Homo sapiens: one gene and its partners. The protein of the gene in region 1 interacts with the protein of each later gene in a pairwise test. Each region holds a gene or a part of one and is shown in the gene's direction. Other genes may lie near its edges. The genes, in order: AGTRAP, PPIF, SCAND1 and SENP2.

The links.
Region 2: the proteins of AGTRAP (region 1) and PPIF interact in binary tests that used the Homo sapiens proteins (3 or more experiments, as listed by UniProt).
Region 3: the proteins of AGTRAP (region 1) and SCAND1 interact in binary tests that used the Homo sapiens proteins (3 or more experiments, as listed by UniProt).
Region 4: the proteins of AGTRAP (region 1) and SENP2 interact in binary tests that used the Homo sapiens proteins (3 or more experiments, as listed by UniProt).

What each region holds. Positions count from the first base shown.
Region 1 is NC_000001.11:11,746,099-11,751,269, forward strand, and holds the end of AGTRAP (type-1 angiotensin II receptor-associated protein), read left to right. Parts: intron 1-28; coding exon of another isoform or gene 29-125; intron 126-1,341; coding exon 1,342-1,447; intron 1,448-2,316; coding exon 2,317-2,512; intron 2,513-3,978; coding exon 3,979-4,094; 3' UTR 4,095-4,671; downstream 4,672-5,171. UniProt on the Homo sapiens protein: Appears to be a negative regulator of type-1 angiotensin II receptor-mediated signaling by regulating receptor internalization as well as mechanism of receptor desensitization such as phosphorylation.
Region 2 is NC_000010.11:79,350,432-79,355,834, forward strand, and holds the end of PPIF (peptidyl-prolyl cis-trans isomerase F, mitochondrial precursor), read left to right. Parts: intron 1-1,055; coding exon 1,056-1,152; intron 1,153-1,885; coding exon 1,886-1,961; intron 1,962-3,213; coding exon of another isoform or gene 3,214-3,275; coding exon 3,276-3,411; 3' UTR 3,412-4,903; downstream 4,904-5,403. UniProt on the Homo sapiens protein: PPIase that catalyzes the cis-trans isomerization of proline imidic peptide bonds in oligopeptides and may therefore assist protein folding. Involved in regulation of the mitochondrial permeability transition pore (mPTP).
Region 3 is NC_000020.11:35,953,087-35,959,440, reverse strand, and holds SCAND1 (SCAN domain-containing protein 1), read left to right. Parts: upstream 1-4,938; 5' UTR 4,939-4,993; exon of another isoform or gene 4,994-5,101; 5' UTR 5,102-5,156; coding exon 5,157-5,696; 3' UTR 5,697-5,817; downstream 5,818-6,354. Other genes in the region: CNBD2 (cyclic nucleotide-binding domain-containing protein 2), read right to left, coding at 1,667-1,720, 4,688-4,861. UniProt on the Homo sapiens protein: May regulate transcriptional activity.
Region 4 is NC_000003.12:185,589,284-185,596,320, forward strand, and holds part of SENP2 (sentrin-specific protease 2), read left to right. Parts: intron 1-830; coding exon 831-886; intron 887-7,037. UniProt on the Homo sapiens protein: Protease that catalyzes two essential functions in the SUMO pathway.

The sequences.
Region 1 (5,171 bases):
CCTTTACCATCTCTTTTAATCTGTTGAGCTTCTGGAGACATTTCTCTGCCAAACCAAGACTGGAAACCATTGAGCTCACCTGTGCACTTTGCAAACTTCGAAGTGCAGCGCACAGGGCAACAGCTGTGAGTAATGTGAACTGTAACCATCATGATTCACGACCTTGAGAAGCAGGGCCAAAATACAGATTTCTTAGTCACACTTCCCCAAGATTCTGAGTTGGTGATTCTGGGCTGGGACCCAGGCACCTGCTTTCTTAAAAGCAAAAGATAAGATGGTTTATTCAAAGACCTATTGAACCGAATGGCACTCCACACCTGCCTTGCACATGTCTTCTGCATGTTACACTTTAGTGAATGTCCTATAAATCTAGGAAGCGCCCGCTGCATGCAGGGGAAGGCAAGGCCCAGTGGGTTTGGTAATAAATGAGGTAGACTCAGTCCCTGTCCCCCTGAGTCTTCCTTGCAGCACAGCAGGGTGAGCAAGAGCATGGCCTCTCCAGCCAGACTCCAAATCCCAGCCCCACTGCTCAGCAACTGTGTGACCTTGGGCGAGTTACTTAACCTCATTGTGTCTCAGTTTCCTCATCTCTAAAGTGAGGGTAACAATAATACTTCCTTCCTATGGTTATTAACATAAATGTACATGAATGAGTTAATTTAAAACAGAACCATGCTAGGTACTAGCAAGTGATCGGTGTTCACTATGATTTTGATTGGATTGACAAGTAAGTCAACAATGTCAGTATCAGTACCCTAAAAATAGAATAGGGCGGGCCTTGTGTTAGGAAAGTGACGAACTTGTACTTAGCACCGGTGGGCAAGGGAAGGAGTCTCAGGGTGAACATTCGAGTCTCAGGGTGAATGACAAAAGGAGGGCCAGGTGTCAGGGTAGAGGGCGCCCGCCGCACAGGGCAGTGGCTGGGAGGTCAGTAGGGCGAGGCTGTGTCCGGGATCCCACAGGCCCCTTAGGCCCTGGTGAAGAGTCTGCATTTTATTCCAAATGGGACAGAAAACTGTTGGAGGATTTTTAGCAGAGGAGTGACAGCATCTGACTACGTTACCGGTTGCTGTTTAGAGAACAGAGTGGCAGTCAGGACGCTGGCACAGGGTGGCTGCGGCTGTCATCTGCCAGGAGAGGGAGGTGCTTTGGATCTACAGGGACACAGCCAGATCCAGGGTCTGGGTGGGAGGCGGAGCCCATGGGATTTGCTGGCACACAGCCGGGTGGCCTCGAAGACTATGGCATGTTCTGGGAGGAGGCCCTGAGACGCCGGAGCAGGAGGGAGGTGACCTGCGGGGTGGTGGCCTCCTGACGGGACTGAGCTACCTCTTCCTACAGGGGCTGCATTGTATTCTCAGGCTCCTATGCCTGGGCCAACTTCACCATCCTGGCCTTGGGCGTGTGGGCTGTGGCTCAGCGGGACTCCATCGACGCCATAAGCATGGTGAGCCAGGGTGGGGGAGAGGCGGCAAGGCGGGGAGCCGCAGCACAGGGCAAGACATAGCCTGGCTCTGCTACCCCGTCCCATCCCAATCTTCCCCCTCTTCCTTGGGCCACCACTTCCCATTGTCTAAAGCCTGTTCATCAGCCTCCTGGGCTCCGGCCCATGCCTGTGTTCAGGAGCCCAGCCTGCTGCTCTTCTTGTCTGGCTTAGAGAACCCCAAGTCTGCCATTATCTCCCTGAGGAAAGCCATGGGGTGGGTCCCACCAGTGCCTCGGATTAGCCACTTCGCAAGAGCAGTGGAACATCCCCTGTAACCTCCCTCTGCGGCTCTCTTTTAGGGGAGGGGATATGGCTGGGAGACCCGGCCAAGAGGGCATTTCACTACTTTAGGAAGTAGAGGTGACCCTGCCCCACCGAAACCTCCCACAGGGGGAGCTTCTCAGCACCCACGGAGCCCCGTGGGGCAGTGAGCACTCCCGCACGGGCTCTTCAAGCCGAGGCCAGGGCCTCAGGATGACTGAGAAGAGATTTTCTTTGTGTTGGAGAAGGACTGGGTGAACTCCAAGGAACCTTCCTCTATGGAGGTTCTAGAGCCAAGTCTTGTGCCCATCATGGCCTTGGAGATGACGGGAAATGGGTGGGGAGGGAGGCTCTGGTGGAACCGAGACCTGGGCCCCCGGCATCCCTGCCCCCAGACTGCAGTCTCAGCCAGCGGCTCCCCAGCGGGGCCCTGCCTGCTTGCTTGATCCATTTTCCCGCAAGCCCCAAGGACACAGCAGGGCATGAAACGGCTTCCCATCCGGTGTGTGGCGGGGGAGCCACGGAGCGTGGTGGGGGTGTTGTGCTCATCAGTGTGGTGTGTCTTGCAGTTTCTGGGTGGCTTGCTGGCCACCATCTTCCTGGACATCGTGCACATCAGCATCTTCTACCCGCGGGTCAGCCTCACGGACACGGGCCGCTTTGGCGTGGGCATGGCCATCCTCAGCTTGCTGCTCAAGCCGCTCTCCTGCTGCTTCGTCTACCACATGTACCGGGAGCGCGGGGGTGAGCTCCTGGTCCACACTGGTGAGGCCACCACCTCCAGCCAGCTCCTCACCGCTCCCTTCTCTCCCTTGCCTGGCCTCCAGCCTCTCCCTCAGTGAGCCAGCCTTGCCCCATGGGGCCAGGGCTCAAGGTGCAGGGAGAGCGTGGCATGGGCGCTCTGTACTAGGCTGGACAGGTCCAAGCTCCTAGTCTCTGCTGCAGGAGCCCAGGGGTCCCCTGGTTGTCCTGGTCTGCCGTGACCTTCTTCTGCTGTGAAGCTGAGGCTGGGCCCTTCTCTCAGCCCAGAACACAGGCACAGCTGGGGGTACCATTTAGTTCCCAGGGGCAGCCCTGGGCTGTCTCCATCCTGAGGGCCACGGGCACCTACAGGTCTCCTCTCTGTTCTCACCGGGGCCCATCACTGGAACCCCATTTCCTGCCACATGGGGTCTTCCCTCTCCTGCTGCAGAGACTGCTAGGTGGCCAGGGCAGAGCCCGTGCCAGTGTAGGCTGTGGGAGCCTCAGTGAAGACAGCCCTGAACAGGGGGCACTTTCCCTGCCCACCGGCCCCTCCCCACTCACCCAGCCTTACACCTGCCCTCTCCCACGCCCTCTCTGAACTCCTGTACTCCTTCTCCTGGTGGCCGAGCCATTTGCCTGCTCTCTGACACCTCTCTCTCTCTTCCTTTCTCTCTCTCTTTGAGAGGAGTGGAGGGAGGTGGTAGGGTGTGGCCTTCTGCCTTTCACTCCTGAGATGAGATGCCCCACGTGGCCTGTGACTGCCACCAGCTGGTTGAGGGTGGGAATGGCCTGGGGCTGCCCACAGTGGCTGACCTCAGCACTGCCTGGGCCTGCCCCCAGGTGAGGGGTGCCAGAATGTTTCTCCCATTGGACAGATGAGGAAACTGAGGCCCACATCCTTTGGGACTTGTTCAGGGTCCCGGGATGAATGTACAGAGTAGGGGATGGGAGTGAGGCATGTGGCGTACTCGGAGCCCTACGGCCCTGCCTTGGACCCAGCCCCAGCCTCCGAGGCCATCTGGATATGGTAATGTGGTGTCCTTGTACCTGGGAGGGGAGCTGGAGAGGAGTGCGTGGGCCCGGGGCTGATGTCCCTCTGCCCAGGTTCCTAAGCACGTGCTGCCTGGGGAAGCCCATGGCACAGGGGCCAGGAGCCTGGCTTTGGACTCGGCTGCCTAGGCGTGGGTCCCAGCATCATCAGCTTTGAGCTGTGTGATCTCGGGCAAGTCACTTCATCCCTTTGACCCACAGTCTCCTCATCTGTAAAGTGGGGACAATAAAAATACCCGTCGCACAGGGATACGGCAGGATTGAATGAATAATACACGCTAAAGGTTTAGGGCCTGGGGCTGCTGCCTCTGTCTCTGTGCATGGTGTCAGGATGCCCAGCCCGAGGGTGGCGGGGGTGGATCTTGGGTTGGACTCAGCTGAACATCCCGAGTTCTCACCCTTCATTTTTCTTTCCCACCATGTCCCCTGTCACCTAGGTTTCCTTGGGTCTTCTCAGGACCGTAGTGCCTACCAGACGATTGACTCAGCAGAGGCGCCCGCAGATCCCTTTGCAGTCCCAGAGGGCAGGAGTCAAGATGCCCGAGGGTACTGAAGCCAGCCACGCTGCGCCCGGCCCTGCCCCGGGCCTTCCTCGTGCCTGGGAGGTCGTTCTAGGGATGCTCCTGACCTCCGTCTCTTGGACCTAAGATGGAATGTGTCCCCAGCTCAGGGATTGCCTGAACCAAGAGGCCAGGAGCCCCCATGGGCCGCCCAGTACCATGCACACTCCTGTCCCGAACTCCCTGAGGCCTCCCCTCCCTTCAGGGCACCCACTGGTTCCCAGGCTGGAACCAGGGTCTCTCTTTACCTCCTACCCCATGGTGGCACCACAGAGGCCCTCAGCCGAGTCCTGCCTGAGTGTTGCAAGCTCAGGCCTTTAAGGACTGCTGATGCCCCCTCAGGCCTCCCCCAAGTTTGCTGGGCTTTGGTGGAAGCCCTGAGAGCTTCAGGTCCTGCTCAGCCCGAGGAGCAGTCTGGCATGGGAGTGAGGCCCCGTCCTTCTCACTGCCTGGTCACATGGTGCCTAGGGATGCAGGGCTGGAGGCCAGAGGTGTCAGCAACACTGTGTCCCACCACAACCTCCAGCCTCCCTTTTCAGAGCACAGCATTAAAGTTTGGGGAATTCTGTAGATGGGCTGTGTTTTGAACCACCTTCAATCTCCTGGCTGGGCTGGGGCCTGGCCTTGTTCCTGGGAAGATGTCTCCTGCCAGTTCCCAGGTGGAGCCTGTGCTGTGCTGCCCCATTCTGTCATGGCAGGAGGAAACAGGCATGTGCGTTGGCTGAGCTGGGCTTGAGCCTGGCTCTGGCCTAGCAGAGGCCACAGGAGAGAGAGACACTGGTGGGTGTGGTGCGTGGGCATCCGTTTCTCTGAACCAGATGACCCAGGCACTCTTTGGAATCCTGCTCTGCCACTTACTAGCTGCATGCCTTCAGTGTCTTCTAGAAAGGGTTGGTGCCTGCTCCAGGTGTGAAGTGCCTGGCGTGAGGAGGGCTCCCTAAGTGATGGTGAACTTGTTAGCAGTGGACCTGCTCCTCAGGCCAGTGACGATGCTAGGTTAGGAGGCAGGGGCGACCTCTTCCTGGTAGCCCCTGTGTCTGGTCACAGCTGACTTGGGCTGACACGTCCAG
Region 2 (5,403 bases), on another chromosome or scaffold:
GGCATGGCTGTCATGACCTCTTTGAAGACCTTCCTGCCTGGAATTCTCTCCCCATTCCCTCCACCCTGACCCAGTGGCCGTCATCGTACCGTGGTAAGTGGCAGCGGGTTGGGACTGGACGTCTATGTGCGGCGAAGCCTGGATACGGGGTGAACACAGGGACGGCAGGCCTGGCCCAGCCCTAAGGCTGATGGTAAAGTAGGAGCTGAGGTGGAAGTCCTGAGCCAGGGTGGGAACTCCAGCGCGGGAGGGCTCCCTGGCACAAGGCGGTGGCACCGGGAGTCCAGACCAGAGTCCTGAGTCATCCGTTGGGAGGGATATCAATTAGGGAGCACCTAATTGACACCTGTGGATGCTTCAGCTGGGCTGGTCAGTTCCCCTCTCTTACCCACGGATCCCATCTCAGGAAAACAGCAGCCAGCCATGGCCTGGGCTGGGCAGCGCTAGGCATAGGGGCTGCTACCAGGCTCTTCTGGCCATGGGTGCCCCATGCAGGTTTGGCCACGGCTGCCTGGGCCTTAGCTGAGGCCTGAGGAAAGATGTCAGCCTTGGGCAGACTCTGTCCTGGGTCTGCAAGGGTTGGGAAAGCTGCTGGGCTGGGTAAGGGGCAGTGCGCGGACAGTGAGGGGACTCGGCCTGGGGAGCTGGTCTGGACCAGCTGCTGGTACTCCCACAGACTAGACTCGGGAACTGGGGGGCCTCTGGCCTCTTCCTTGTTGCCCTCCAGGAGGAGTGGGTTAAATTCTGGGTCACTAAGTATCATCTCAGAATGGCCTTTAGGTCTTTTGAAGATTACTTAAAAATTTGCTCAGACAAAAAGTAAGTCATTTGGAAACAAAGGTAGTTACGGTGACAAAAGATATTTAAGTTTTGTCTTTTTTTTTTTTGCTTATTATTCTTATTATTAGCTCTTATTTTATTGGATGTTTATTGACCCCTTTACCTGAGGGGCGCCAACTGGGTGGGCTTGGGTGGGCTGAGGCTGCTGCCAGCGCCAGGGCCGTGGCCCCCGCCTGCTCCATGGTAGCCACTCAGAAGGTGCTTTGTGCTCACAGGCGGGCGACTTCACCAACCACAATGGCACAGGCGGGAAGTCCATCTACGGAAGCCGCTTTCCTGACGAGAACTTTACACTGAAGCACGTGGGGCCAGGTGAGTGGGGGCCTCCTCTAGGGTGAGTGTCCCCACAGCTCTGACCTGGCCTGGAAGCCCCAGCAGGCCCTGAGAGGCCACATGCAGTCACCGTCCAGTATCTGATGAGTCTCCTTCCTCCCTGCGACACTGTAGGCTGTCTCAGCATTTCTGGCTTGTTGAGTTTCCCTAGAGTTTTCTCATCTCTCAGTTTAAAAAGCAGGGTTTCCTTTGGGAACTTTGTGGAAGAACCTTTAAGCAGAATGGAGGCCCTGGCCACCTCCCTGTTTGTCCTCTGAGTTTCGGGTTGGAAATTCTAGGACACTTAGAATTGTTGCAGAATGGTCCTTAGGTCCTTTGAGGATTATTTAAAATCTTGCTTAGATAAAAAGCAAATGGTTTGGAAGCCAGAGTGGTTATTGTGGCAGCATCGTGTCACCTATAAGACCCAAGGTAGAATGTGGAGATGTCTGGAGGTCAGGTCCTGGGGTCCTGCCCCAGGTCCCGCCCCAGCTCTACCACTGAGAGCTTCCACAAGGCCCTGTCCTCTCAGGCCACCCCACTGAGAACTAGCAGGCAGCAAAGGCAGGCATACCCTGGGGGGCTGGTATCGGGCCCTGGTTCTCCTCTTCTGGGTCCCAGGATCTGCAGACTCGAATGTCCCTGGTGTGGTTTGCACCGTCTGCCCTTTCAAATGCCCTCCCAGGCAGGTGCCTCCAGGGGCAGCGTGGCTCAGCCCTGCTGGTTTTTGCAGGTGTCCTGTCCATGGCTAATGCTGGTCCTAACACCAACGGCTCCCAGTTCTTCATCTGCACCATAAAGACAGACTGGTGAGTTCCCTGCCCCAGGCCCTCTGGGAATGCGGGCAGCCTTGCAGCTGGAGGAGGATTCGTGCACTTTTAGGGGCAGGCAGTTTACAGCCAGGCCTTCTGCTCTGGGACAGTGGCCCTCTCCCAGGCTGTGTGTTTGTATGAGAAAGAGAAAGTTAGTGGAAGGATCAAGGGAGAATTGGGGTTGTTCCTGCAACTCTGTCATGGTTCGGGTTCCCATTGTTGCTGTCACCTGGAATTTTCTGAGTGTGTTCTGCTCACACGCACACACGAAAGGGTTTCTCTACCAGATACATTTGGGAAATGTTGCAAAACATATTATGAGGCCTCAGGAGGGACTGAGTAGAAGCCCACTTGTGTGGTTTTAACCTGGAGTTTCCCAGGCTTGTCTTGACCATGGGCTGAGCCTTGGCAATGCTGCAGCAGACATTTGGATATCAGCAAATTTCCAAATGAAGCCTCTGTATTATCATAAACCTGCAGATAGCCACAGGCCTGTAAGGGCCCTGTTTTCAATGCCCATGGATTTTAGGGATGTCTCTTTCCTGGTACATTTTCCTCTAAGGGATAAATTTCTCTGGCCAGAGTCCCAAATGTCCTAGCCCTGGGGCACCTGGGGATGAACTGGCTGGGAGCTGACTTGGTAAAGCCCATTTCCGAGGATTTTAGGGAGACCTAGGTGGGGCAGACACTAGAAGTGTCCAGCCTCCAAGCCCAAGAGATGTGGCCGGCAGGGCTGGGCAGGTCCTTGCTGGCTCAGCCTGCTCTTTGCTCCTTCATGGGACCCCAGTGGATCCTGCAGTTCTGCTCTTGGCTGGAACCACGCCAGCTTCGCTGGAGCTGGACTGAGCCGCCTTTTACATTATTGGACTCTCTCGGGTTGAGAGCTGCCCAGGACTCCTGCAGTTTCACCACCCTTGTTCCTTTGACTCTTGACTCATCATTCATGACCGTTAACGTGGTTCCATTTGTATGGACTTCTTCTTTCTTCAGAGCATTTCAGTATCCTGTTACCTCCCCATGCAGAACAAAGAATACTCCACTTTTGATAGATGGGGTTACCAGGATTCAGGCTACATGGCCTGAGGCAAGGTCACAACATGAGTGACAGAATGTGTCCTGGAAGCCAGGCATCCTCTGGGGTGTATTTGGGGCGCTCAACAAGGCTTGATCGAGCTTTGGGGGTAGATCTAGCTATTCCATGGGGATTCTTTTCAGAATTGCTGTTTTCGGTAACTAATTCCATGACCAGGTCCATGGCATTGGATGACATTGCGCTACACTGTTGCTCACCCGGGTCACCCGTCCTCACAGGTTGGATGGCAAGCATGTTGTGTTCGGTCACGTCAAAGAGGGCATGGACGTCGTGAAGAAAATAGAATCTTTCGGCTCTAAGAGTGGGAGGACATCCAAGAAGATTGTCATCACAGACTGTGGCCAGTTGAGCTAATCTGTGGCCAGGGTGCTGGCATGGTGGCAGCTGCAAATGTCCATGCACCCAGGTGGCCGCGTTGGGCTGTCAGCCAAGGTGCCTGAAACGATACGTGTGCCCACTCCACTGTCACAGTGTGCCTGAGGAAGGCTGCTAGGGATGTTAGACCTCGGCCAGGACCCACCACATTGCTTCCTAATACCCACCCTTCCTCACGACCTCATTTCTGGGCATCTTTGTGGACATGATGTCACCCACCCCTTGTCAAGCATTGCCTGTGATTGCCCAGCCCAGATTCATCTGTGCCTTGGACATGGTGATGGTGATGGGTTGCCATCCAAGTGAAAGTCTTTTCCTTGACCAAGGGGGACAGTCAGTTTTGCAAAAGGACTCTAATACCTGTTTAATATTGTCTTCCTAATTGGGATAATTTAATTAACAAGATTGACTAGAAGTGAAACTGCAACACTAACTTCCCCGTGCTGTGGTGTGACCTGAGTTGGTGACACAGGCCACAGACCCCAGAGCTTGGCTTTTGAAACACAACTCAGGGCTTTTGTGAAGGTTCCCCCGCTGAGATCTTTCCTCCTGGTTACTGTGAAGCCTGTTGGTTTGCTGCTGTCGTTTTTGAGGAGGGCCCATGGGGGTAGGAGCAGTTGAACCTGGGAACAAACCTCACTTGAGCTGTGCCTAGACAATGTGAATTCCTGTGTTGCTAACAGAAGTGGCCTGTAAGCTCCTGTGCTCCGGAGGGAAGCATTTCCTGGTAGGCTTTGATTTTTCTGTGTGTTAAAGAAATTCAATCTACTCATGATGTGTTATGCATAAAACATTTCTGGAACATGGATTTGTGTTCACCTTAAATGTGAAAATAAATCCTATTTTCTATGGAAGACTGGTACCTGGTTTCTGGAAGAGGGGTCTGTGACTTGGAGCTGATCTTTACTGAGCTCGCCGTGGCAGATGCCATGCTCAGGACGTTCATGTGGATGGTTTCATGTCATCGTGCTGGCAACTTGTCCTCCCTGCCTTAGAGATGAGGCTCAGACAAACGACCTTAGCACCCATAGCCTATGCCATGAGCACTGGCTCCACCCTGAATCCCAGCTCCTCCCCTTAGTGACCCCAAGTCTGTTTCCCTCAGCTGCATAAGGAGGCGATATAGTTTGAATATTTGTCCCCAGCCAAATCTCATGTTGAACTGTAATCCCCAGTGCTGGAGGTGGGGCCTGCTACGAGGTGTTTGGATCATGGGGACGGGTATTTCATGGCTTGGTGCTGTTTTCTTGATGGTGAATTATTGCAAGATACGGTCATTTAAAATTGTGTGGCACCTCCCCCTGCCCCCTTCTTGCTCCTGCTTTCACCATGTGACATGCCTGATCCCCCTTCACCTTTTGCCATGGTCATAAGCTTCCTGAGGCCTCCCTGGAAGCTGAGCAGATGCCAGCACCATGCTTCCTGTACATCCTGCAGAACCATAAGCCAATTAAACCTTTTTAATAATAAATTACTCAGTCTCAAGTATTTTTTTATAGCAATACAAGAATCCTAACACGGGTTAACAATAAGGCCCACCTCGTAGGGTGGTGATCCACGTGAAGTGCATAACGCAGTGTCTGGCGCACCTTCCTAAGCACTCTGGAGTGACAAGGATGATGACCTTTCCCCTGTCAGGGTCTTAGGAAGGAGGAGGGATGCCAGAGCAAAGGAGCCTCCATCATCTGAGGTTAGGAGTGGACTTCCTAGGATAAGCCAGTTCCATTTGGAATTGACTTCTAGGTGTTTCCAAATTCACAGGGAAGGCAGGATTGGAGGTAAGAGCTTCCCTAGGTAGACAGGGCTGTGGTGTGGCCCGGCAGTTGAGTGGTCAGGCAGGCAGTTCTCAGAGGAAATTTGGGCCCTTTTGAGGGCATCTAACAGAATTATTTCTCACTGGGGTTCCCTGAGTGAGGTTATGTGTAGTCTTAGGTTAATGGAGTCACTCTGAGGTCATGGTGACTGGGGTCG
Region 3 (6,354 bases), on another chromosome or scaffold:
TGTGAGGCCTCCCTAGCCACGTGGAGCTGTGAGTTCATTAAACGTCTTTCCTTTATAAATTACCCAGTCTTGGGTATGTCTTTATTAGCAGCATGAGAACAGACTAATACACTAATAATAATATCAATGCCTGTGACTTTTAAAAATACTACATACTAGAACTTACATATTCAAGGAAGTATTATCTCTTCATAACCATCGGTTTTAAAAAAATGACGAAGTATATATTCTGTGCCAAACCCTGCACCAGTTCCCTTATATATATTTCTCCTCCTCGACTATTCAGAACCATCCTGTGTGGTAGTTACTATTTCCAGGCTCAGAAAGATAAGTGATTACCCAAAGCCATGTCATAAAATAACTCATAGCAGTTCTATTTGTAACAGCTCAAAGGTGGAGACAACCCAAATGTCCTTCAATGGATGGTTAAATATACCATGGTACATCTATACCATAGATTACTACTCAGCAATAAAAAGGACAAACTATTGATACAAGCAACCACTTGGGTGAATCTCCAGGGAATTGTGCCAAGTGGAAAGAGCCAAGCCCAAATGATTATACACTATATGATTCCAGGTATGTAACATTTTTTAAATAACACAGTTATAGACATGGAGAATAGATTAGTGGTTGCCTGTGGTTAGGGATAGGGGAAGGGAAGATGAATGGATGCAATTATAAAGAGATAGCACGAGGGATCTCTGTGGTGATCAGACAGTTCTAGATATTGTGGTAGTAGTTGCATTAATCCACACACGATAAAATTGCATAGACCTACACACACACACACACACACAAATGCATGTATGTAAAACTGGGAAAATGTGAATAAAGTCTGTGGATTGTACCAATGTCAATTTCCTGGTTTTGATATTGTACTATAGTTATGCAAGATGTTACCATTAGGGAAAACTGACTGAAGGGTACATGAAACCTCTCTGAACTATTTTTGCAACCTTCTATGAATCTATAATTATTTCCAAATAAAAAACTTATTTATTTTTTTGAGATGAAGTCTCACACTGTCACCCAGGCTGGAGTGCAGTGGCACGATCTCAGCTCACTGCAACCTCTGCCTCCCGGGTTCAAGTGATTCTTCTGCCTCAGCCTCCCAAGTAGCTCGGATTACAGGTACCTGCCACCATGCCCAGCTAATTTTTTGTATTTTTAGTAGATATGGGATTTCACTATATTGGCCAGGCTGGTCTCAAACTCCTGAACTCGTGATCCGCCTGCCTCGGCCTCCCAAAGTGCTGGGATTACAGGCATGAGCCACCATGCTTGGCCAATGAAAAGCTTTTTAAAAGACGTATTCTCCAGTGTGATGGCTCTGATAAAAAAGAAAATAAGTATCCAAGCTTCTTTTCCACAACCCTCAACAACCAAGTGCCATCAAAAGGCACTGAGGTCTCTGAAAGAGTCTGGGACTCATATGAGAGCTCTGCCTTCTCAGGGATGGTCTGCAATCCACATTTGTCCTCTTTCCTTTAATCAACACTGAAGCTACCTAGGAGTCAGGCCTTGTGTTGGAAGCTAAGTGATATGAGATGAATGAGTTATGATCCCTTCCCAAGTGAACTCCCAATCTAGGGATAAAGAGGCCTAATAAGATAAGAGTTTGGACTAAAAGTCAAAAGATTTCTGTCCTCATGAAACCACTTACTAGCTTTCTTATTTTGGACCAATCCTTCATCTTCTGACATCTTGGTTTCTCAATCTGCAAAATTCAAAAGAATGAAATATAAATGTATATTTTAAGCTTAATCTGGGACTTCTGGGAGGGTTCAAGGATATATGTAAATTACATGAAAGTAGATAACTGCATCCCTTTTCGAAGAAGAGGCATTATATGTTTTTTTTCAGATTCTGGGAATCTGAATGTTTTAACTTTTATCATGGACATTTTCAAGCATATACCAAAGTAGAGTGTACATACTGCCAATCTTTCAAGCCTTCTAAAGTGCTGAGATTACAGGCATGAGCCACCGAGCCCAGCTAATTTTTTGTATTTTTAGTAGAGACAGGGTTTCATCATGTTGCCCAGGCTGGTCTTGAACTCCTGAGCTCAGGTGATCCGCCTGCCTATGCCTCCCAAAGTGCTGGGATTACAGGCATGAGCCACCGCGCCCGGCCAACTACTGAGCCAATCTTGTTTCATTTATTCCCTCCACATTATTTTTTTACTGCTGAATCACTTTAAAGCAGGCTTACCGGCCCACAAAGGGCTGGATTTTTAAATTCCATTTCTAAGGGCCCTTCCAGTCTGACATTCAATGATTCTAATAGATCTCTCAGGTCCCTCCTCCTATCTCTAATAATTCACGATTTCAATAGGGATGGAAGAAATAGACTAGAGATCTAACATAACATCTCATGATTCCAGGTGCCACAAAAGTTCATTCCCTTTCACAAGAAGATAATAACTAAATTTTAAACATGGAATTCTAGGACATTTATGATTTAACCCCCACCAGTGTTCCAACCTCATCTCTCACCCCTTCTCCAGATCCCAACCACTTTCCCATATAGCCTGCAGTTTCCACAGTTTTGCTCCTACTCACTATGTGCCTTTGTACAGGCAGTACCTTCTACCTGGAATGTCCCTGAGCCCCACCCATTTTGTTCTTGAGTCTCAGCTTGAAGTCTCCTCCCCAGTGAAGACTTCTATCACCTCTTGCCTCCACAGAAGGGTTAGTGTGCTCCCTTAGGCCTAGAAACTGAGTACCTGTTACCACACAGGGAATAGCACTGTTGGTCACTCTGGGCAGCAAACCCAACTACTGAGGGGCCAGACAGAAGTCAAGGTTTGAAGCCAGTAGGCATAACAAACACTAAGACCCTGCTTTCTCACCTCTAAAAAGAAAAGAGAGAAAAATATCAACTCTAAATAAAGCAACAACCTGAGAGCAACAGTAAATGCAAACAACATTCTATTTCAGAGAACCATAGGGAATGGTTGAGATTGAGACCAAATGGGACAGAGTATCTTGTCTAAAGGAAGTCGTCTCTACTCAGTGTCAGCTGATTGTTGACCAGCAGGAATTTGGGTCCAGTGTGGCCAGCTCTTCCGTTTTTTCAAGAAAAATTAGAAATCCAGATTTGCATGTGAAATCTCCCAATTTTTACATGTCAGCAACTAAAAAACATTAAAGGCCCACTGCAACGACTTTCAAGGTTTTCAGGCTATGGAAATGATTTCATGAGGGTCCACTTCTACCCATCCAAAGGAAACATCCTATGGTAGGGGTAAGTTTTATATCAGGGCTAATGGCATGTTAATGGTTGTTAAACCTGCTCCTCCATCCTGCACGGGCTCAAAAGGACTGCAAGGTCATAGAAAACCTTTCATATGAGGCCCCTGTCCTTTGAGGGCCTCAGTTTCCCCTTCTGTAAAATGAGGATATAAAACCTATTTGTGGCCCGGCACGGTGGCTCACGCCTGTAATGCCAGCACTTTGGGAGGCTGAGGAGAGTGGATCACCTGAGGTCAAGAGTTCGAGACCAGTCTGGCCAACACGGTGAAACTCCATCTGTACCAAAAATATAAAATATTAGCCGGGTGTGGTGGTGGGCGCCTGTAATCCCAGCTACTCGGGAGGCGGAGGGAGGAGAATCGCTTGAACCCGGTAGGCGGAGGACTCAGTCTCAAAACAAAAACAAAAACAAAAACAAAACTATTTGTGAGTCAGCTACCAAACAGAAAACCACCTGGCCGAGGGCTGTCAGGGCCACGTGCTTTTACCTACATCATCTCACTGAATTCTCAATTACCTCTGAGAGGTAAGTTCTATTACATCCACATTTTACTGATAAGAAAACAGTAGCTCAGAGATAGCAAGCAGTTTACCTAATAAAAACAAGAGCAAACTTCTTAAAAGCCCTTTCTCTCCAACGGCTTAATTTATTTAATCCTCCTAACAACTCTGAGCTGGGTATCGTCAAAGGGGATTCCACCAAGGTAGCCTCACTCCAACACTCTAACCCAAGGCTGCTCAACAGAAATATAATGTAAACTGCACATGCAATTTAAATGTTTTTAGAAGCTGCATTTAAAAAGTAAAAACACAGGTGAAATTAATAACATTTTTATTTGACCCAATATATGCAAAACATTATATTCCAACATGTAATCAGTATTAAAAAGTATTGAGATAATTTTTACATCAGTTTTTTCGTACTAAGTCCCGTATTTTACAATATAGCACATCTCAATTCGCTATATTTCGAGGGTTATCAACTAGCTACGTTGCAAGAGCTGAGTCAACTCAGGAGGCCAGCGGCCACCATAAGGGGCAATGCATTTAGAGTTCACTTATTAAATGCTGACGTTAACAGAACCCACAGAGCCGCATTTCCCTTGGTTTCGGAGGACACGCGAAAAATAACAACAGCAAAGGGTTCTCGAGCATCTCCTTCGCGCCAGACGGTGTGTTGTACTTTGTCATCGTCGCAGTAAGGCCGGTGCTATCGCCCTCCTAGTTTGACCAAGCGAGAGGACTTTCTCCAGATGGGCCCCTCCCGAGAGAATGGTCGCCGTCCCGCTCTCCTGTTCGGGTCACCACCGGCCGGGCGCCACTCGAACGAGCCCCGGCCAGCCGTCACCCTAATCATTCCCGAAGGAGGGGCCATCAGAGCTACAGCTCATCAGGGTCAATCAGAAGGGGCGCCCGCACGCAAAGGTCACCTGCAAACCGAAGCGGCGCACGGATAAGGTCCGGGACTTGAAGTCTATCTCCAAACATTCAGGCTCCTCCTCCGACTCCTCCTCGAACTGGCGCTCAGAGGCGCCACCATTCGGAAGGAGCCCAGGCCACGCGCAGCTCGCCCTCCCGCACCGCGAGGGCAGCAGCCGCCTCATGCGACTCGAGAACGCTAGAGGGCGCCGCTTCCGGGAGCCCGCAAGCGGCTTCCGGGTGCTCGCGCGCCGACCTGGACGCAGAGAAGCCAGAGACTTTCGCTTCCGGCTGCCGCAGGCGCTTCGCTGGTGCAGGTAAGCTCCGCACACTCTCGGCCGGTCCCGAGTCCGACTCCCTCAAGGGTGACGCGAGCTCTGCCCTTTAACCGGAAACGTCTCCCTGCTCACCCCACCCCCGCGCAGACGCAGTGCTGAGCACACAGCTACCGGACAAAGAGTGACGCCCGGAGCTGGAGTTATGGCGGCTACGGAGCCGATCTTGGCGGCCACTGGGAGTCCCGCGGCGGTGCCACCGGAGAAACTGGAAGGAGCCGGTTCGAGCTCAGCCCCTGAGCGTAACTGTGTGGGCTCCTCGCTGCCAGAGGCCTCACCGCCTGCCCCTGAGCCTTCCAGTCCCAACGCCGCGGTCCCTGAAGCCATCCCTACGCCCCGAGCTGCGGCCTCCGCGGCCCTGGAGCTGCCTCTCGGGCCCGCACCCGTGAGCGTAGCGCCTCAGGCCGAAGCTGAAGCGCGCTCCACACCAGGCCCCGCCGGCTCTAGACTCGGTCCCGAGACGTTCCGCCAGCGTTTCCGGCAGTTCCGCTACCAGGATGCGGCGGGTCCCCGGGAGGCTTTCCGGCAGCTGCGGGAGCTGTCCCGCCAGTGGCTGCGGCCTGACATCCGCACCAAGGAGCAGATCGTGGAGATGCTGGTGCAAGAGCAGCTGCTCGCCATCCTGCCCGAGGCGGCTCGGGCCCGGCGGATCCGCCGCCGCACGGATGTGCGCATCACTGGCTGAGCGGTGGAGCTGCGGGCGGCCAGGGCCGGGCGCTCTGTGCGGACTGGGGCCATGATCGGGCCCGGGGGCCTGAGCCTGGGACCCCACCCCGTGTTAATGAAAAATGAGTTTTGGCAGCGCCTGTGGTCTGGTGTGTCTCTTTCATTCGTTCTTATTGGGTTTATTTTACCAAGCCTGTTTCCTACCGCCTTTCTGGCTGGTGGCGAAACGAAGTTGGGAGTCCGTAACAATAAGGCCTTCGTTGGCTATAGTGGGATCTTTAGATGTTGACTGAACCTAGGTTATCCCTCTACCACACATGGGAAGTTTTTCACCTGGGCTCCCAAGGACCCACTTGGGTTTCTTACACGCAAAATAGCTGGCTCTATTAAATGCTCACTTAACTGGCTACCTCTATACCAATATGGGCACCAACTTGCACCTGCCCTTTGGGTACAGGCTTCCCAAAATGTCCAAGTTACTGGGCCATTTTAATGTGAAGTGTTTACTGCACACCTTCACAGAGATAGGCTAGTTCTTGTGAGCTCTGGCTTATGCCGCCAGGCTTGCTCAACTTCCTTGCCAAATTTTAGGCCTGTGGTAGGAATAAAGCAGAACTAGTTGAAGTAATGGATTATTTACATTACTGAAGCTACTCATTTTAATGTCTCTCCGGCTG
Region 4 (7,037 bases), on another chromosome or scaffold:
GAACAGTTTTTTTTAACTCCCTTACACACACACAAAAGAAAAAACAGTAAAAAAGAATTGTCTTTTAAGGCTGTTCATATTAATACTGTCACCTAAAGTAAAAGATGGCTTTCTTTGGGGATCATTTTCAAAAGGAAATTGCTTGTTTGTTGTTTTTAAATCATTTCTGGAGCGAAAGAGAAAATACTGTCCTAAACTCTTACCTGGGTTCATTTACTAGCTAAGTGACTTTGGCCAGTTTTAAGTTTGTACTTTAACCAGATGGCAAATTATTATTTGGTAAGAAGTTTGTTTCTCTCTCAAATAGTTGAAACTGTAGCAGTAAGTCTTCGCATGTGAAAAGCCTACTATAGAATAGCATTCTCTCTTTTGTTTTGCTTTTATTTTTAGTTTTATTTCTTTTTAAAACAAGGTCTCACTCTTTTGATTAGGCTGGAGTGCAGTGGCATGACCTGGGCTCACTGCAGCCTTACTTCCTGGGCTCAAGTGATCCTCCTGCCTTAGTGTAGCTGGGACCACACTCACTTACCACCAAGGCTGGCTAATTTTTTATTTATTTTTTTATCGTAGAGATGAGGTCTTACTTTGTTGCCCAGGCTGATGTCAAACTCCAAGGCTCAAGCGATCCTCCCCCTTGGCCTCCCAAAGTGCTGGGATTACAGGCACGAGCCACTGTGTCCCACCAGCATTCTCTTTTAAAACATCAGTTGGATCTCATTTTATGACAAAGTGATAGAAGGGGGATGTGTTATATGAATAGTAAGTTTACTTACAGAAATGAATGTGTGTGTAAATCTATATATATATATTTTTTTCTTTCTCTTTTTCAGCACTCTGTTTTCTACAGTGGACACTGATGAAATACCAGCCAAAAGACCAAGATTAGGTACTGAATATAAATTTTAAAAATTTTTAGTTTTTAAATAGGAAAAATATATGCATGGAACAAAATTCAAAAGGTAAAAAGTATCTGGTAAAAAGTAAGTCTTGGCCGGGCGCAGTGGCTGTAATCCTAGCACTTTGGGAGGCCAAGGCAGGCGGATCACCTGAGGTCAGGAGTTTGAGACCAGCCTGGCCAACATGGCAAAACCCTGTCTCTACTAAAAATACAAAAATTAGCTTGCTGTGGTGGCAGGAGCTTGTAATCCCAGCTACTCGGGAGGCTGAGGCAGGAGAATCGCTTGAACCTGGGAGGTGGAGGTTGCTGTGAGCCAAGATGGTGCCATTGCACTTCAGCCTGGGGCGACAGAGCAGGACTGTGTCAGGAAAAAAAAAAACAAAAAAACTTAAGTCTCTTTCCTGGCCCGACGTGGTGGCTCAAACCTTTAATTCCAGCACTTCAGAGGCTGAGGTGGGAGGATCACTTGAGGTCAGGAGTTTGAGACCAGCCTGGCCAACATGGTGAAACCCCATCTCTACTAAACATTAAAAAATTAGCCAAGTGGTGCACGCCTATAGTCACAGCTACTCGGGAGGCTGAGGCACGAGAATCGCGTGAACCTGGGAGGCGGAGGTTGCAGTGAGCCAAGAATCTGCTACTGCACTCTGCACTCCAGCCTGGGCGACAGAGCGACACTCCATCTCAAAAAAAAAAAAAAAAAAAAAAAAGAAAGTCTCCTTTTTTTTTTTTTTTTTTTTTTTGAGACAGAGTCTTGCTCTGTCGCAGGCTGGAGTGCAGTGGCGCAATCTCGGCTCACTGCAAGCTCTGCCTCCCAGGTTCACGCCATTCTCCTGCCTCAGCCTCCCGAGTAGCTGGGATTACAGGCACCCACCACCACACCTGGCTAGTTTTTTTGTATTTTTAGTAGAGATGGGGTTTCACCGTGTTAGCCAGGATGGTCTCCATCTCCTGACCTCGTGATCTGCCCGCCTCGGCCTCCCAAAGTGCTGGGGTTACAGGCGTGAGCCACCGCACCCAACCCAAGAAAGTCTCTTTCCTATCCCTTTCTTATCTTTTCTAGAGGTAACTACTGTTACCAGGGACTTGTCTAATCCTTGCAGGTAAATAAGCCTAGGTGTAGACTGTGCATTTTAAAATTCTAAATCATTCTACAAAGAAAAGATACTTCTTATTTATTTATTTTTTGAGATGGAGTCTCGCTCTGTCACCCAGGCTGGAGTGTAGTGGTGCAATCTCGACTCACTGCAACCTCCACCTCCCGGGTTCACACCATTCTCCTGCCTCAGCCTCCTGAGTAGCTGGGACTACAGGCGCCCGCCATCATGCCCGGCTAATTTTTTGTATTTTTAGTAGAGACGGGGTTTCACCATGTTAGCCAGGATAGTCTCAGTCTCCTGACTTCGTGATCCACCTGCCTCAGCCTCCCAAAGTGCTGGGATTACAGGCGTGAGCCCCCGCGCCTGGCCCTACTTATTTTTAAGGAGGAAATGTTGTAAATGTTTCAAACTGAGGTGACTCTAGTTCAGATGGCTGAGGGAACCCATCTTTTCTATTTTTTTTTTTCGAGACAGGGTCTCATTCTGTCACCCAGGCTGGGATGCAGTGGCATAATCATGGCTCACTGCAGCCTCCACCTCCCTGGGCCCAGGTGATCCTTCCATCTCAGCCTCCCAAGTAGTTGGTTGGGCCTACAGGCACGTTATCACACCTAGCTGATTTTTGTATTTTTTTTGTAGAAACAGGGTCTTGCCACATTGTCCAGGCTGAAAATAGGCAGCAGTGGCATTTTGAAAGAATACTCCTGTCTTTAAGAACCGGTAATATTTCTTTTTTTTTTTTTTTTTTTTTTTGAGACAGGATCTTGCTCTGTCTTGATCTTGTCATCAACAATTTTTTTTTTTAATTTTGTAAGAGGCAAGGGTATCACTGTGTTGCCCAGGCTTCAGTGCAGTGGCACGATCGTAGCTCACTGCAGTCTCAAACTCCTGGGCTCACACAATCCTCCTGCCTCAGTCTCCTGAGTAGCTGGGACTATAGGCCCATACCACCACACCTGGCAAATTATTTTGTATGTGGATACTGAGTCTCCATATGTTGCCCAGGCTGATCTTGGAACTCCTGCCCTTCCAAAGTGCCGGGATTATGGATATGAGCCACTGTGCCCAGCCAAGTCTTTTACTTCAGTATATCTGAATGGATAAAGAAAATAAAAGTAGATTAAAGGAAAAAGGCATAGTAAAATGCTATAATAATATATTCCTCTTTCTCAAAAATGATTATAAATTTGGGTCTACCTCCAGATGTGGTAATTGAGTGTGGACATATTTGTGTTAATATTTCGTTTAAATTCAGTGAGTACTTATTGAGCATGTCTCAGTGCTAACCAATGTGTTAGGTTTTACAGAAAATACAAAAATTAGTAAGACAGGGTCTCCTTTTTTTTTTTTTTTGAGATGGAGTCTTGCTCTGTTGCTCAGGCTGGAGTGCAATGGCACATTCTCGGCCCACTGCAACCTCCGCCTCCCAGGTTCAAGTGATTCCCCTGCCTCAGCTTCCCAAGTAGCTGGGACTACAGGTGCCCACCACCACACCCGGCTAATTTTTGTATTTTTAGTAGAGACAGGGTTTCGCCATGTTGGCCAGGCTGGTCTCAAGCTCCTGACCTCAAGTGATCCACCTGCCTTGGCCTCCCAAAGTGCTGGAATTACAGGCGTGAGCCACCGTGCCCGGCCTGGGTCTCCATTTTTAAGGACCTTATATGATAATATGGTAGGGGGTATAAGACAATCACATAATAATGCTAATGTCAATGAAAATATAAAAAATAAAAAAACAAAGATAGTAACAAAATCCTATCCAATTTTCAGCTCATCGAGTCTCAGTAAATGTTTGCGGGAGTTAGTATGAGTTAGTATGTTAGCCCAGGTCTTGAAGGATGGATAGGATATCAAAGGAGAGCAATAGGAAGGAAAAATATTCTAGGCAGAGGGAATAGTATGGGAAAGTTGTGTAAATTCAAGAAATAGTGAATAGAGCTCAGGGAAAAAAAATGGCTGAAGACAGGTAGATCAAATTATCGTTCTGTTTTGTTTTGTTTAGTTTTTTAATAGAGACAGGGTCTTGCTATATTGCTCAGGCTGATCTCGAACTCCTGGGCTTAATTAAGTGATCCTCTCACCTTGGCTTTCCAAAATGTTGGGATTACAGGCGTGAACCACCATCCCCGGCCAAGGATTTTCAAATGACAGGAATTTATACTAAATTCATTAGAACAGTATTTCCCAAAGCACAGGATAGATACCAATTTAGGAAATGATTTTAGGGGATTCAACATTCACAGCATTATGTAACATTTGAATGATGATTATGTACTAAGAAAGGTGTATCCTTTTCAGTTATTTATTTGAGGTGCTCACATCCTGTTTATTTCACACAGAAAATCTTGATTTAATGCTAGTATATCTTCAATACTTGTCTAATATATGCTAATCTCCCATTTTTTAACAGGCCCAACTAGAACTTAGTATTATTGTGTTTTCATTTCTTTTTTTTTTTTTTTTTGAGACGGAGTTTCTTTCTCGTTGCCCAAGCTGCAGTGCAATGGTGCGATCTTGGCTTGTTGCAACCTCCACCTCCCAGGTTCAAGTGATTCTCCTGCCTCAGCCTCCCGAGTAGCTGGGATTACAGGCGCCCACCACTATGCCCGGCTAATTTTTGTGTTTTTAATAGAGACAGGGTTTCACCATGTTGGCCAGACTGGTCTCGAATTCCTGACCTCAAGTGATCGCCCGCCTCGGCTTCCCAAAGTGTTGGTATTACAGGCGTGAGCCACCTCACCCGGCTGTGTTTTCATTTCTTTATAAGGCAGGTGATGTTGGCTTTACATATACAGTAGTAATTTAAAATTATCTTTTTTTTTTAAGCCAAAAAAGGAAGTCAGTTTTAAAGAAAAATATAAATAGCTTGTACTTGGATGTGGTTAAAAAAAAAAAACACACACAAACGTTGGTATTACAGAAGGTTTCTGACTTAATTATTTAGGACAATCATCTGTTTTATGGATTCTATGTTAAGGATCACTTATTGCATCATTCCCATTAAATATGTAGTATGATTTTCTGAATGGCAAATTGTAGAAGGGAATCTAAACCAAAGGGTAAGCGGTGGGTAGCAGAGTTTGTAAAGGCCTGTAAAGTGCTGCCCAAGAGAACTTCCTGCAGTGATAACTGTTGAGCACTCGAAATGTGGCTAGTTCAACTGAGGAACTGAATTTTAAACTTTATTTGATTCTAATAAAACTTTAAGTTAGGTAACCATATCTGGCTACTAGCTACTGTGTTGGACAGTACAACTCCATTGGTTGCTTTTGAGAGAAAAAAAAGCAAAGCAAGGGTAAAAGAAAAGAAAGAAGACCTCAGAATTTCAGGCTCATGATCTTTTTTTTTTTTTTTTTGGGACAGAGTCTCGCTGTGTCACCCAGGCTGGAGTGCAGTGGCACAATCTCGGTTCACTGCAACCTCCACCTCCCAGGTTCAAGCGATTCTCCTGCCTCAGTCTCCTGAGTAGCTGGGATTACAGGTGTGCACCACCATGCCCAGCTAATTTTTATATTTTAGTAGAGACGGAGTTTCACCATATTGGCCAGGCTGGTCTCGAACTCCTGACCTCAAGTGATCCACCCTCCTTGGCCTCCCAAAGTGCAGCTAATTTTTGTATTTTAGTAGAGACAGGGTTTCACCGTGTTGGCCAGGCTGGTCTTGAACTCCTGACCTCAAGTGATCCACCCACCTTGGCCTCCCAAAGTGCTGGGATTACAGGTGTGAGCCACCGTACCTGGCTCAGGCTCATGACCTTAAAGGTGAAAGAGATTTTAAGAGATCTATGTAGTCTAGTTTCAGGGAAGTAAGGTGATCTTTTCCCCATTTTACAGATGAGGCAGGCCTTCTGTTTTTTAAAAAAATCAGTGAGATCTTTTGACATAATCTCAGGGGCATACCGAGATTTTGATAACATTCGTAGGAAAATAAATATTATGATATTGTTTAGTAGCCACAATTTGCTATGTTACCAAGAGGCTTCTTGTCCTCTAGAGTCTGGATGACAGACTGTGGGTTAAGCATCAATCGCTAAAGCTCTTCTTCTCCTCCTTAGAAAGTGCAGCAGAGTGTGTACTATCCCTCAGCACTATTAGAAGGGGATAACCTGGAATTCTCTGATTCCTAAAATGAAAAACAACTCATTTGCATAGTTTGGTACTTATAACTATTAGCAAATTTCTCAAATTGGATTGTGCTTTACCTGGCCATTACTTTTTCCCTTTTGTTTGTTATTCCCCTATGTTTCTGGAAAGTAGTTTACATGTTCTGGAGCACTGCTTAAAAGCTACCATTGCAGTCTATCTTTCTCTAAAGCAGAATGGCTAATGTGATGTTCTGTTTTTCTCAAACTAGCGTCTTCAAATACCCTTAATTAGGACATAGGATATTGTAGAAAGCTTACATCAGATATATAGAAAGTGAGAAAGAGGTAGTGTAATAAAAGGAGGAAGTGAGGAAAGCACTGAAACCTACCCTTTCCTTTTATTTTTGGTGGCAAGGAAGGGTGAGCCTGAGATTTTTTTTTTTTTTTTTTTTTGAGACAGGATCTCCCTCTGTCACCCAGACTGGAGTGCAGTGCCGTGATCTCACCTCACTGCAACCTCTACCTCCCGGGTTCCAACGATTCTTCTGCTTTAGCCTCCCAAGTAGCTGGAATTACAGGCATGTGCCACCAGGCCCAGCTAATTTATTTATTTATTTTGAGATGGAGTCTCACGCTGTTGCCCAGACTGGAGTACAGTGGTGCCATCTTGGTTCACTGCAACCTCCGCTTCCTGGATTCAAACGATTCTGCTGCCTCAGCCTCCAGAGTAGCTGGGATTATAGGTGTGTGCCATGACGCCCAGCTAATTTTTGTATTTTTAGTAGAGACGGTTTCGCCATGATGGTCAGGCTGGTCTTGAACTCCTGACATCAAGTGATCTGCCCGCCTTTGCCTCCCAAAGTGCTGGGATTACAGGCTTGAGCCACCGTGCCCAGCCTAAGATCTTCTAACACATCTCCACTAGAGGGATAGTCTTGTTCTATCTTAGATGTTT